Linked DNA regions of Homo sapiens. The protein of the gene in region 1 interacts with the protein of each later gene in a biochemical or structural test. Each region holds a gene or a part of one and is shown on either strand. Other genes may lie near its edges.

Region 1 (3,500 bases):
GAAAAATTTTTTTTGAGTATTAGAGAATAAAAGCCAAGTTATGAAGAAAGGAACATAGATATTCCAGAAAACAGTAGTCATCTTCGCTCCTATGATTGAGTGCCAAATTTAGCTCTGAGCTTCCGGGCAGCCAGGGCAAGGGAGGGATATGGTACCCGAATGGCTCTCATCTAGTTAAAGGAAATAAACCATTTGTTTAAGAGAGGACTTTGTTCTTCAGCACTTGGTGCCAAGGGGGAAGTTCTGTTGGATCCTGTAGACACAGTAGGAGAGAGGAGTGGAATATTACTTCACAGAGGTTAAGGGCTTAGGCTGCAGGTGCAGGCAGTCTTGGAATTTAATCTTGGTTCTGCCACTTACTGGCTGCCAACCTAAAGTTTGTTTGCTTTCCCCTTTGTGCCTCAGTCTCCTTATCTGTAAAGTGGGCTAGTGGTGGCTGCAAGCTATAGAAGTGAGGCATGTCCACTGTATAGCACAGCACCTGGCACACAGCAGATGCCCAGTGAATAACAGCCCTCACTGGAACCCCTGGGTGCTCACAGACATTATGGCCTCTGTCCATGGCTCAGGTGCGCAGGGTGAGGGGAGCTCTGTGTCTTGGGTTGGGATGGGGGTGTCAGCAGGGAAATGAGCTGAGCAGAGGGTTTGAGTCAGAACAGTAGCCCCCGGTTTTCCCAGCTGCCCAGCAGTGAAGGCAACCTGACATGTGGCATCCATCTCCCCACAGTGCTCCAGCTTTTCTGCAGCTCACCCAAGGCTGCTCTCCGCTATGCTGCTGTTCGTACCCTCAATAAGGTAAGAGTCCAGCTTGGGGGTTGGAGGAAGCTGTCTGATCCAACTGGAGGTGTGTCCTAGCCTCTGACCTGGCTGGGAAGGATAATAGCCCTGGTCACAGTTAGTTTCTTCTAGATGGTGAGATGATCTCATCCAAAGGACTTCTGACTGGGCCAAACCATCAAATGTAGTGACAGCATTGGGTTCCTGCCCTCTCTGTCACTGTCCTCCCAAAACAGGTTGCCATGAAGCATCCGTCAGCTGTGACAGCTTGTAATCTGGATCTGGAGAACCTGGTCACAGATTCAAACCGCAGCATTGCCACGCTGGCCATCACCACCCTCCTTAAGACGGGCAGCGAGAGCAGCATCGACCGCCTCATGAAGCAGATCTCCTCCTTCATGTCAGAAATCTCGGATGAATTCAAGGTACCTGCTACCCCCAGGACACCCACGGCCCCCAGAGGAAGGAGCTCTGTCCCTGCTCTCTGTGGCCACAGCCTTCCTGCCAGGACTGACCTGAGGGGCTGGTCAGCCTTGAGGACTCAGAGGAGGCCAGCAGTTTGCTCTGCAGAGACTTGGCCTTCCGAGAAATGTGCGTAGTCCTGCCTCCAGGCCTCCATCCATATCGTCCCCTTGTACTGAAAGAACAGTAGTTTCCAGGCCAGTTAAGGGTTCATTGATTTGTTGTCCAAGTATTTCTTGAGCACTTGCTGTCTGCTATGTAGAGTGACAAAAGGGGAACATAGCAGTGAACAAAGCAGGTGACTGCCCTCCTGGAGCTTCCTTTCTAGGGATGGGAGAGGAACAGTAAACAGGTAAAGAAAGGAGTAGACGAGATCATCTCAGGCATGGGTACTGCAGTCAAGAGTGTAGAAATACAGCAGGGATGATCCTAGGAAGAGCACAGTCTGGGAAGGCCCTTCTGGAGGGTGACATTTGAGCTCAAACCTGAATCAGTGCAAAGAACCAGGAGGAAAGGCAGGAGCAAGTCAAGGAGAGAGAAGGCCAGTGGGTGGAAGAGCTGTGGGGCCAGTGCAGGTGACAAAGTCAGAATAGACAGGGCTCAATCATGTAAGGCCCATGGTCAGGTAAAGAGTTTTAATTGCAAGGAAGACATTGGAAAGGTGTTCTTTTGGGGCAGGAGGAAGGATGTGAATATTTTTTGAGCTTATATTTTGAAATAATTCATAGGAAGTTACAAAGAAATATACTGAGAAGTCCTATGCACCCCTCCATCAACCCTCTCCTACAGTGCCAGCATCCTACACTAGCACAGGACAATGTCAACCAGGAAAGTGACACTGGCATGACCCATAGAGCTCATTCAGATTTCACCAGCTACACAGGCAACTCCTGTGTGTATATATGTGAAGTTCTATGCAAGATGTCATGTGGAGACTTTCAAAATTGCCACCACAGTGAAGACACTCAACTATCCATCTCCACAAGACTCTTGTTACCTCTTCATAGTCAGGCCCATTCCTACCTCTCTATTCCCTAACCCCTGGCAGCCATTAATTTGTTCTCAATTTCTGTAATTCTGTTATTTCACAATTGTTAATTGATAGAACAATGAAGTATGTCACCGGAGAGTTTTAATCAGAGCAAACAATAATATGAATAATATATTGTGGTAAATTCTATAGTGTGGATTATGCAAAGTAGGCAGCAGTCTACTCTGCCTGTGGGTTACAAGAATGCTTTGCAGGCTGAAATGACACAGTGAGATTTGCATATTAGATCCTTCTGGGTCTGGGCACGGTGGCTCATGCTTGTAGTCTCAGTGCTTTGGGAGGCCAAGGAGGGAGGATCACTTGAGGCCTGAATTTTGAGACCAGTCTGGGCAATGTAGCAAGACCTCATCTCTACAAATTTTTTTTTTTTTTTTTGAGTTGGAGTCTCGCTCTGTTGCTCAGGCTGGAGTGCAGTGGTGTGACCTCAGCTCACTGCAAGCTCCGCCTCCTGGGTTCACGCCATTCTTCTGCCTCAGCCTCCTGAGTAGCTGAGACTAGAGGCACCCGCCACCATGCCCAGCTAATTTTTTGTATTTTTTAGTAGAGACGGTGTTTCACCATGTTAGCCAGGATGGTCTCGATCTCCTGACCTCATGATCAACCCGCCTTGGCCTCCCAAAGTGCTGGGATTACAGACGTGAGCCACCGCACTCGGCCTACAGAAAATTTTTTTAAAAATTAGCCATGTGTGGTGATGCGCACCTGTAGTCCCAGCTACTCTGGAGGCTGAGGTGTGAGGATCACTTGAACCCAGGAGTTCGAGGCTGCAGTGAGCCATGATCATGCCACTGCACTCCAGCCTGGGTGACAGAGTGAGACCTTGTCTGAAAAAAAAAAAAATTGGCTGGGCGCGGTGGCTTATGCCTGTAATCACAGCACTTGGGAGGCTGAGGTCGGCAGATCACTTGAGATCAGCAGTTTGAGATCAGCCTGGCCAACATGGTGAAACCCTGTCTCTACTAAAAAAATTAAAAAATTAGCTGGTGTAGTGGCTCACACCTGTAGTCCCAGCCACTCCGGAGGCTGAGGTAGGAGAGTCGCTTGACCTGGCCTGGAGGTGGAGGTTGCAGTAAGCCGAGATCGTGCCACTGCACTCCAGACAGAGCGAGACTCCGTCTCAAAAAAAAAAAAAAAAAAAAAGAGTCCTTCTGGAGCAGAGTGGAGGGGTGACTGGGTAAAGAGACTGTTGGAGTAATTCAGAAGGAGAGGA
Region 2 (3,500 bases), on another chromosome or scaffold:
CTCTTCATGGAAAGTTCTATGTAAAGCTCCAGCTCCAAACACAAAATAAGACAAAGGTCTAGACCTTGACTCAGGTTTTATGGGAAAATAATTGAAAACCAGCTAAAAGTTCTTGTTCTAAAAGGCTATATGACTTCTCTTCCTGGTAAGAAATTATTGGAAGTCCAGATTCATATATGGGATTGCCTCTACATTTATTATTTTGCACTTAAAAGCATCCTACAAATACAATCAGTAATTAATCAGCCGACATAGTCCATTTGAGAAGGGAGAAGATTGTTCTAAGAGAAGCTCATTATGAAAAACTAGGAAAAATGAAGACTCTTTTCGAGCCCTCTGCCTCCTGCTTTACCAAACACAGGTTCTAGATTGCCAGTTCCACACTCGGATGGTCTGATCATCGGAGGCACTCAGAATCCAGGGATATTCCTGAAAGATATTCCAGACAAAGGCTTTAAACATTAAACAAATCTGTTCTATCAGGTTCTTGTAATCATTTTTCTCTAAAGAACTGCATTGCTTAACGGCTCAGCTACATTAGCAAAGGGGCTGCTGCTTTTGCTATCAGGTTAGCTGTCTCCTTTTCTCTACCACTCTAACAGCTTTTCTCAACTTCGGCACTTTCACCTATAAGACTTAAGAATGGAAGCCAGTTAGAGGCACAATACATTCTCAGAGGCAGATAGTGAAACATACATTTACATTTACTTCTATATGTGTGTGTGTGTGTGTGTGTATTTATATACAGTTAATCATGTAAATTAAGATCCTGTGAAAGACTCTTCTACCTTTAACTCTAGGATGGGAATATTATTTTATTGTCTGACTTCTTTCTGTCCAGTTTCAAAAAATTCCCAGGTCTCAGCAAGCAAAGCAGAAAGTAACATGTAAAGACAATTTAGCCTTTTTGGAGTCTATAAGATTGTTGAGAAAAGGAAGTATTTCTTATTTACACTTCCTTCTTACTACACTTGCTAAGCTTTGTGTTAAACACTGAAAATAGATGGTATTTCTATTTTCAATAGAGATAGTATCTCTACCTTCAGTATTTAGCACAAAGCTTAGCAAGTATAAGGCACACACATATTTAGTGAGCTGGTAAAATGAAAGAAAATAAGGTCTTTCGTAACTTTCCAGGTAGATGGCAACTTGTTCTAGGCAAGGGTCTTCAGGAAGTCCTTTATGGCAATGACAAATAATTCCTACTTAATAAGTTATCTTATTGAGTGGTTATCATTCTCAAATGTTTAAGCTGTAATTTTCTCATTCTCTCCTATCCTAGAATTTTTTAATTAAAAAAAGAAATAATATATACTCAACCAGTAAATTGTTTATTTCATCATATTCTTTCTAACTTAATTAAAGAGACTTAATTTACTGGCAATCAAAGAATAGTGTAAGTTAATGCTAATACACAGAACTATAAGGAGATCCTGTCAGGGTGCAACTGGATTCAGAGGTTGGGAGTCTGTAATCTGCACCTCACTATCTAAATCTACTATGTTACCTGGCAGATCAAAGAAAGTAGTAAGCCTGGCTAAGGGAACAGCCTCCACCAGACCCAAAAATCCTAGGATAGAGGGGTATGATTGTTAATACTTCGAAACGTTTGTTAGCTGATCAAAATGGCATCTTAGTCTGACCTTCTTCCAGACACACCTACTACTTACTAATAATACCCTACATGGGATTAGCTGGCAAACTTTTGTTTTTTGGTTCAGCAAATCTGAAATCAAATCCCTACTTTTCCCTACAGAGAAACAATGACTTCCCATAGAATCCACTGAATCCAATAAAATTAAATTCAGTATAATCCCAAGTGCTTCCTTTTGCAGAAAGAAAAAAAGCAGAAAGGACAATACCACACAGATTGTAGAAGAGCCACTCCAAAAACAACTCTATTATTAAAACATGGGTTCTCAAGGATCAAATAAAGATTACTATGGGGAAACTAAGAATGCTCCAAAACTAGCGCCACCATGACTACTTACATGATGAAAAAACGTGGTGCGAATATAATCTAAGTGCCCAAGCAATGTGAAAAGACAGCGCCGAAGCTTGTAATTCCAAACCTGCAAAGACAAATCAAACTAAGAAACAGAAATAGTTATTGAGCCTCTAAAAGGCTCAGAGAAATTGATATCTTTACAGAGATAGAAATATGTATATAAATATAGATTTATATACATTATTTGTATTTTGGCATTTCTAAATAGGTAGGAACCTTGGTAGAAAGCCTTGTTTAAGATTTGAGGGGAAAAGAACAAGAATGAAAATATAGGTCAGATAAACAACATGGGGTTGGGGTAGGATTAGGGAAAAGCTAAAGATAAAATTATTGAAGTTTTTCAGGCTGGGCGTGGTCACTCATGCCTGTAATCCCAGCACTTTGGGAGGTCGAGGCGGGTGGATCACAAGGTCAGGAGATCGAGACCATCCTGGCTAACATAGTGAAACCCTGTCTCTACTAAAAATACAAAAAATTAGCCAGGCGTGGTGGCATGTGCCTGTAGTCCCAGCTACTCGGGAGGCTGAGGCAGGAGAATCGCTTGAACTCAGGATACAAGAGGTTGCAGTGAGCCGAAATCATGCCATTGTACTCCAGCCTGGGTAACAGAGCGAGACTCAGTCTCAAAAAAAAAAAAAAAAAAAAAAAGTTTTTCTTTCTTTGGGAAGAAGCCATCTGCATTTAATAGCAGGAGATATTTATCCAGGGCTTGATTTGCAACTCTTTTTTCTACTGCAAAATTGTGCTCTTGGCTTGAATATAGACCCCTTAAGTGCTTTACCCATCACTTTTAAAAAGTATGACAGGCTGGGCACGATGGCTCATACCTGTAATCCCAGCACTTTGGGAGGTCAAGGCAGGGGGATCACCTGAGGTCAGGAGTTTGGGACCGGCCTGGCCAACATGGGGAAACCCTGTCTCTACAAAAATACAAAAAAAAATTAGCCGGATGTGATCCCAGCTACTTGGGAGGCTGCGGCAGCAGGATCACTTGAACCTGGGAGGCGGCGTTTGCAGTGAGTTGAGATCGCTCCACTGCACTCCAGCCTGGGCGACAGAGAGAGGCTCGGTCTCAAAAAAAAAAAAAAAAGTAGGACAGATAGATACCATGACTCCAAGGGAAACAATAATATAGGGCATCAGCTTCTTAGGCTCCTAACTTGATGGCAAACAACGCCCATACATGTGTGGTCTGTACTCACCTGTCAAGCAAACAGACCTTAACTTATTACATGGAAAATACTACATTGCTCAGTAAGCCTGAGCTAAGCAGAGAAACAATATCATATTCAGATGTGAAGTTGAGTCAACTACCAAAGTACTAGGCATCAATGAACACAACTGAAGACATGAAAACCAGGATCATAAATATAAAATAGCTTATCTTCCTCATTCAGAAAATCCCCTAAAATGTACAAAAATAAGAGACCAGATGCATTTTTCTTCTTATTTAATTTTTTTAAATTTCTTTTTAATATTTGTTTATAATCAA
Region 3 (4,015 bases), on another chromosome or scaffold:
TCCAGTTTGTGGGCTCCTGTACCACATGCGGTGAGTTAAAAGAACAGGTGGGCAGCGGCGCGGCTCCCGCGTGAGCTGTGTGACTTTGAGCAGGCCCCACTACCTTTCCGAGCCGCATTTCCACCTGGGCGAAGCGGGTTGAGCCGGCCTGGCGGGGAAAGATTCTTTTAACGGGGGAACAACGTAAGGCGTGCACCGGGGAACACGGATGCTGCTGAGTCAATGCCCGCTCTGCCGTTCTCTTTGAGAGTAAGGCTTGCGTCTCGCCTGCTCTAGCGCCCCAGGTTTGAACGCAGTGGGCGCGCAGGAGGAAACATAGATTCACGAATGCAATGCCAGCAAAGTAAAATTTTTCACCCTTGTCCGTTTTTCAGGGTGTTTCAAGCGGAGGAGTCCTGAGTGGAGAAGATTCCGCTTCCCTGTTTTCAGGTTCTGGCAGTCATGGACCGGGAAGAGCGAGTCGGGGCGCGGGTCCCTGGCGGTCGCTGGAACCCTTGTGAGTGAGGTTGGTGCCCGCGAGGGCACAGCGGGCGCTCGGGAAGTCGCAGCCGCCGGCAGAGGGCGCCCCGGGCACACGGAGCGCGCGGCGCTGGGGTTGGGGCGCTCGGGAGGTGCGGGGCACCGGCTGGAGTCCGGCGTTGACCGCAGCCGGGACGCGCCCGCCACCTGGGCGGGGAAGGAGTGAGTCCCCTCGGGGCGCAGCGGCGCGCGCTGGCCCGGATCCCAGCTGCGCCGCGCCCTCCCTGCGAGCGGTGAGTACAGGCGCCCACGGGCATCTCCAACCCTAGTTAGGGGACACTTGGAGACAACGCAGGTCGGACGTCCGCCGGCCGTTCTAGGAGTTGGTGTGCGGGGAATGGGGGGTGCTCCCGCTCGCTTAGGGCTTTGGGTCCGGCTAGGGGTTGACCCCAAGAGGCGCTGGATGTCGGGGCTGAGCTTTGCTTTCAGGGGACTCAAGCTTACTTGAGGTTCTGACATTGGATTTGCCTCGCGGGCCCTGCGCGTGCTGCGCGGGGATCCGGAGACTGGCGAGGTAACCAGGGAGGGCAAGCACTCACCGGGGCGTCCTCCGCCCACCTCGCCCGCAGAACCATCCAGGGGGACCACGTGCGGCTGTCGCCCGCAACTCTGCCTGTCAAGCGAGGACCGCCCCCAGGGCAGGGGAGGGGACGCGCGGGCGGGGTGGGCTGTGCCCCGCGGGAACCCCGCCGGCCTGTGCGCTTGCTGGTGCCAGCTCGGCTCGCTGCCTCGCATTGCCACAGGCTCCTGAGAGGTCGCGGGCAGTGCCTGCGGGGAGGCGCGGGGCCCTGCTCTGTAGGGCTGAAGGCCGCCCGAGGTTCGCCAAGGCTCTGGGCTCTCGAAAGGAAGCCAAGAAAAGAAGCTGCCCAGGTGACCAGTCCTGGGAGTGCTCTCTCCCAAGGAAGCTCCGAGCGCCCAGGAGCCCTTAGCCGGGGTCTAGTGCCCTTTGAACAATCTCCAGCTCTTCAAGGAAGTGGGCTGCCGCCGCCTCTCTTGGGACCTGGCCTGGGATCCTTTCCCCAAACGCACCCCGGCGATTTTTGCGCACCGGGAGCCGAACCCCTGCTGCGCGCAGCTGGCTGGGCTCAGGCGCGCTTCCTCAACGTTTCGGAGCCGCTGCCCCCAGCGAAGTCCACATTCCAAGCTCCAGGGGCTTTGAGAGAGACGACCCCAAGGCAAGGTAGGTGGCTCGGACGGGCTCGCCCTGGGAATTATTAGGTTGGGCTTGACGTGAGTAATGATGCCATCTGCTTAAGTCTTGGAGAAAGACCGTGTGTTTTCCTTTTGCTTTTTAAGGCGTTTGGAGAGCTGCTGAGGAGCCAGGGGCTTGGAGGAGCGAGAAGACATGTATTTTCAGCTGAGTCTCAGAAGGGGAGAATCTCCTGTCACCACCAGAAAAGCAACAGCCCCGAAATGTGATTGCAACTGACTAGCAGAGCAGAGGCCCAGGAGTCACTGGATTGATGATTTAGAATATGCTAAAAAGCCAGTGCTTTATTTGGGGAATTCAGGGGCTTTCTGGTGCCCAAGACAGTGACCTGCAGCAAGGGAGTCAGAAGACAGATGTAGAAATCAAGAGTGACCATCCACGGGATTGACTTGGATTGCCACTCAAGCGGTCCTCTCATGGAATGTTGGTGAGGCCCTCTGCCAGGGAAGCAATCTGGCTGTGCAAAGTGCTGCCTGGTGGGGAGGACTCCTGGAAATCTGACTGACCCCTATTCCCTGCTTGGGAACTTGAGGGGTGTCAGAGCCCCTGATGTGCTTTCTCTTAGGAAGATGAGGACTCTGAACACCTCTGCCATGGACGGGACTGGGCTGGTGGTGGAGAGGGACTTCTCTGTTCGTATCCTCACTGCCTGTTTCCTGTCGCTGCTCATCCTGTCCACGCTCCTGGGGAACACGCTGGTCTGTGCTGCCGTTATCAGGTTCCGACACCTGCGGTCCAAGGTGACCAACTTCTTTGTCATCTCCTTGGCTGTGTCAGATCTCTTGGTGGCCGTCCTGGTCATGCCCTGGAAGGCAGTGGCTGAGATTGCTGGCTTCTGGCCCTTTGGGTCCTTCTGTAACATCTGGGTGGCCTTTGACATCATGTGCTCCACTGCATCCATCCTCAACCTCTGTGTGATCAGCGTGGACAGGTATTGGGCTATCTCCAGCCCTTTCCGGTATGAGAGAAAGATGACCCCCAAGGCAGCCTTCATCCTGATCAGTGTGGCATGGACCTTGTCTGTACTCATCTCCTTCATCCCAGTGCAGCTCAGCTGGCACAAGGCAAAACCCACAAGCCCCTCTGATGGAAATGCCACTTCCCTGGCTGAGACCATAGACAACTGTGACTCCAGCCTCAGCAGGACATATGCCATCTCATCCTCTGTAATAAGCTTTTACATCCCTGTGGCCATCATGATTGTCACCTACACCAGGATCTACAGGATTGCTCAGAAACAAATACGGCGCATTGCGGCCTTGGAGAGGGCAGCAGTCCACGCCAAGAATTGCCAGACCACCACAGGTAATGGAAAGCCTGTCGAATGTTCTCAACCGGAAAGTTCTTTTAAGATGTCCTTCAAAAGAGAAACTAAAGTCCTGAAGACTCTGTCGGTGATCATGGGTGTGTTTGTGTGCTGTTGGCTACCTTTCTTCATCTTGAACTGCATTTTGCCCTTCTGTGGGTCTGGGGAGACGCAGCCCTTCTGCATTGATTCCAACACCTTTGACGTGTTTGTGTGGTTTGGGTGGGCTAATTCATCCTTGAACCCCATCATTTATGCCTTTAATGCTGATTTTCGGAAGGCATTTTCAACCCTCTTAGGATGCTACAGACTTTGCCCTGCGACGAATAATGCCATAGAGACGGTGAGTATCAATAACAATGGGGCCGCGATGTTTTCCAGCCATCATGAGCCACGAGGCTCCATCTCCAAGGAGTGCAATCTGGTTTACCTGATCCCACATGCTGTGGGCTCCTCTGAGGACCTGAAAAAGGAGGAGGCAGCTGGCATCGCCAGACCCTTGGAGAAGCTGTCCCCAGCCCTATCAGTCATATTGGACTATGACACTGACGTCTCTCTGGAGAAGATCCAACCCATCACACAAAACGGTCAGCACCCAACCTGAACTCGCAGATGAATCCTGCCACACATGCTCATCCCAAAAGCTAGAGGAGATTGCTCTGGGGCTTGCTATTAAGAAACTAAGGTACGGTGAGACTCTGAGGTGTCAGGAGAGCCCTCTGCTGCTTTCCAACACACAATTAACTCCGTTTCCAAATACATTCCAGTGTATTTTCTGTGTTGTTCATAGTCAATCAAACAGGGACACTACAAACATGGGGAGCCATAAGGGACATGTCTTTGGCTTCAGAATTGTTTTTAGAAATTTATTCTTATCTTAGGATTTACCAAATAGGGCAAAGAATCAACAGTGAACAGCTTCACTTAAAATCAAATTTTTCTGGGAAGAAAATGAGATGGGTTGAGTTTGCTGTATACAA

What was found. The genes of interacting proteins can lie anywhere in the genome.
Region 2: the proteins of COPG1 (region 1) and COPA form a complex in vitro, tested with the Homo sapiens proteins (one study listed by BioGRID).
Region 3: the proteins of COPG1 (region 1) and DRD1 form a complex in vitro, tested with the Homo sapiens proteins (one study listed by BioGRID).

Annotation. Positions count from the first base shown.
Region 1 is NC_000003.12:129,259,606-129,263,105, forward strand, and holds part of COPG1 (coatomer subunit gamma-1), read left to right. Parts: intron 1-727; coding exon 728-795; intron 796-1,013; coding exon 1,014-1,202; intron 1,203-3,500. UniProt on the Homo sapiens protein: The coatomer is a cytosolic protein complex that binds to dilysine motifs and reversibly associates with Golgi non-clathrin-coated vesicles, which further mediate biosynthetic protein transport from the ER, via the Golgi up to the trans Golgi network.
Region 2 is NC_000001.11:160,333,251-160,336,750, forward strand, and holds part of COPA (coatomer subunit alpha), read right to left. Parts: intron 2,073-3,500; coding exon 1,992-2,072; intron 430-1,991; coding exon 353-429; intron 1-352. UniProt on the Homo sapiens protein: The coatomer is a cytosolic protein complex that binds to dilysine motifs and reversibly associates with Golgi non-clathrin-coated vesicles, which further mediate biosynthetic protein transport from the ER, via the Golgi up to the trans Golgi network.
Region 3 is NC_000005.10:175,441,383-175,445,397, reverse strand, and holds the start of DRD1 (D(1A) dopamine receptor), read left to right. Parts: upstream 1-1,215; 5' UTR 1,216-1,699; intron 1,700-1,815; 5' UTR 1,816-2,298; coding exon 2,299-3,639; 3' UTR 3,640-4,015.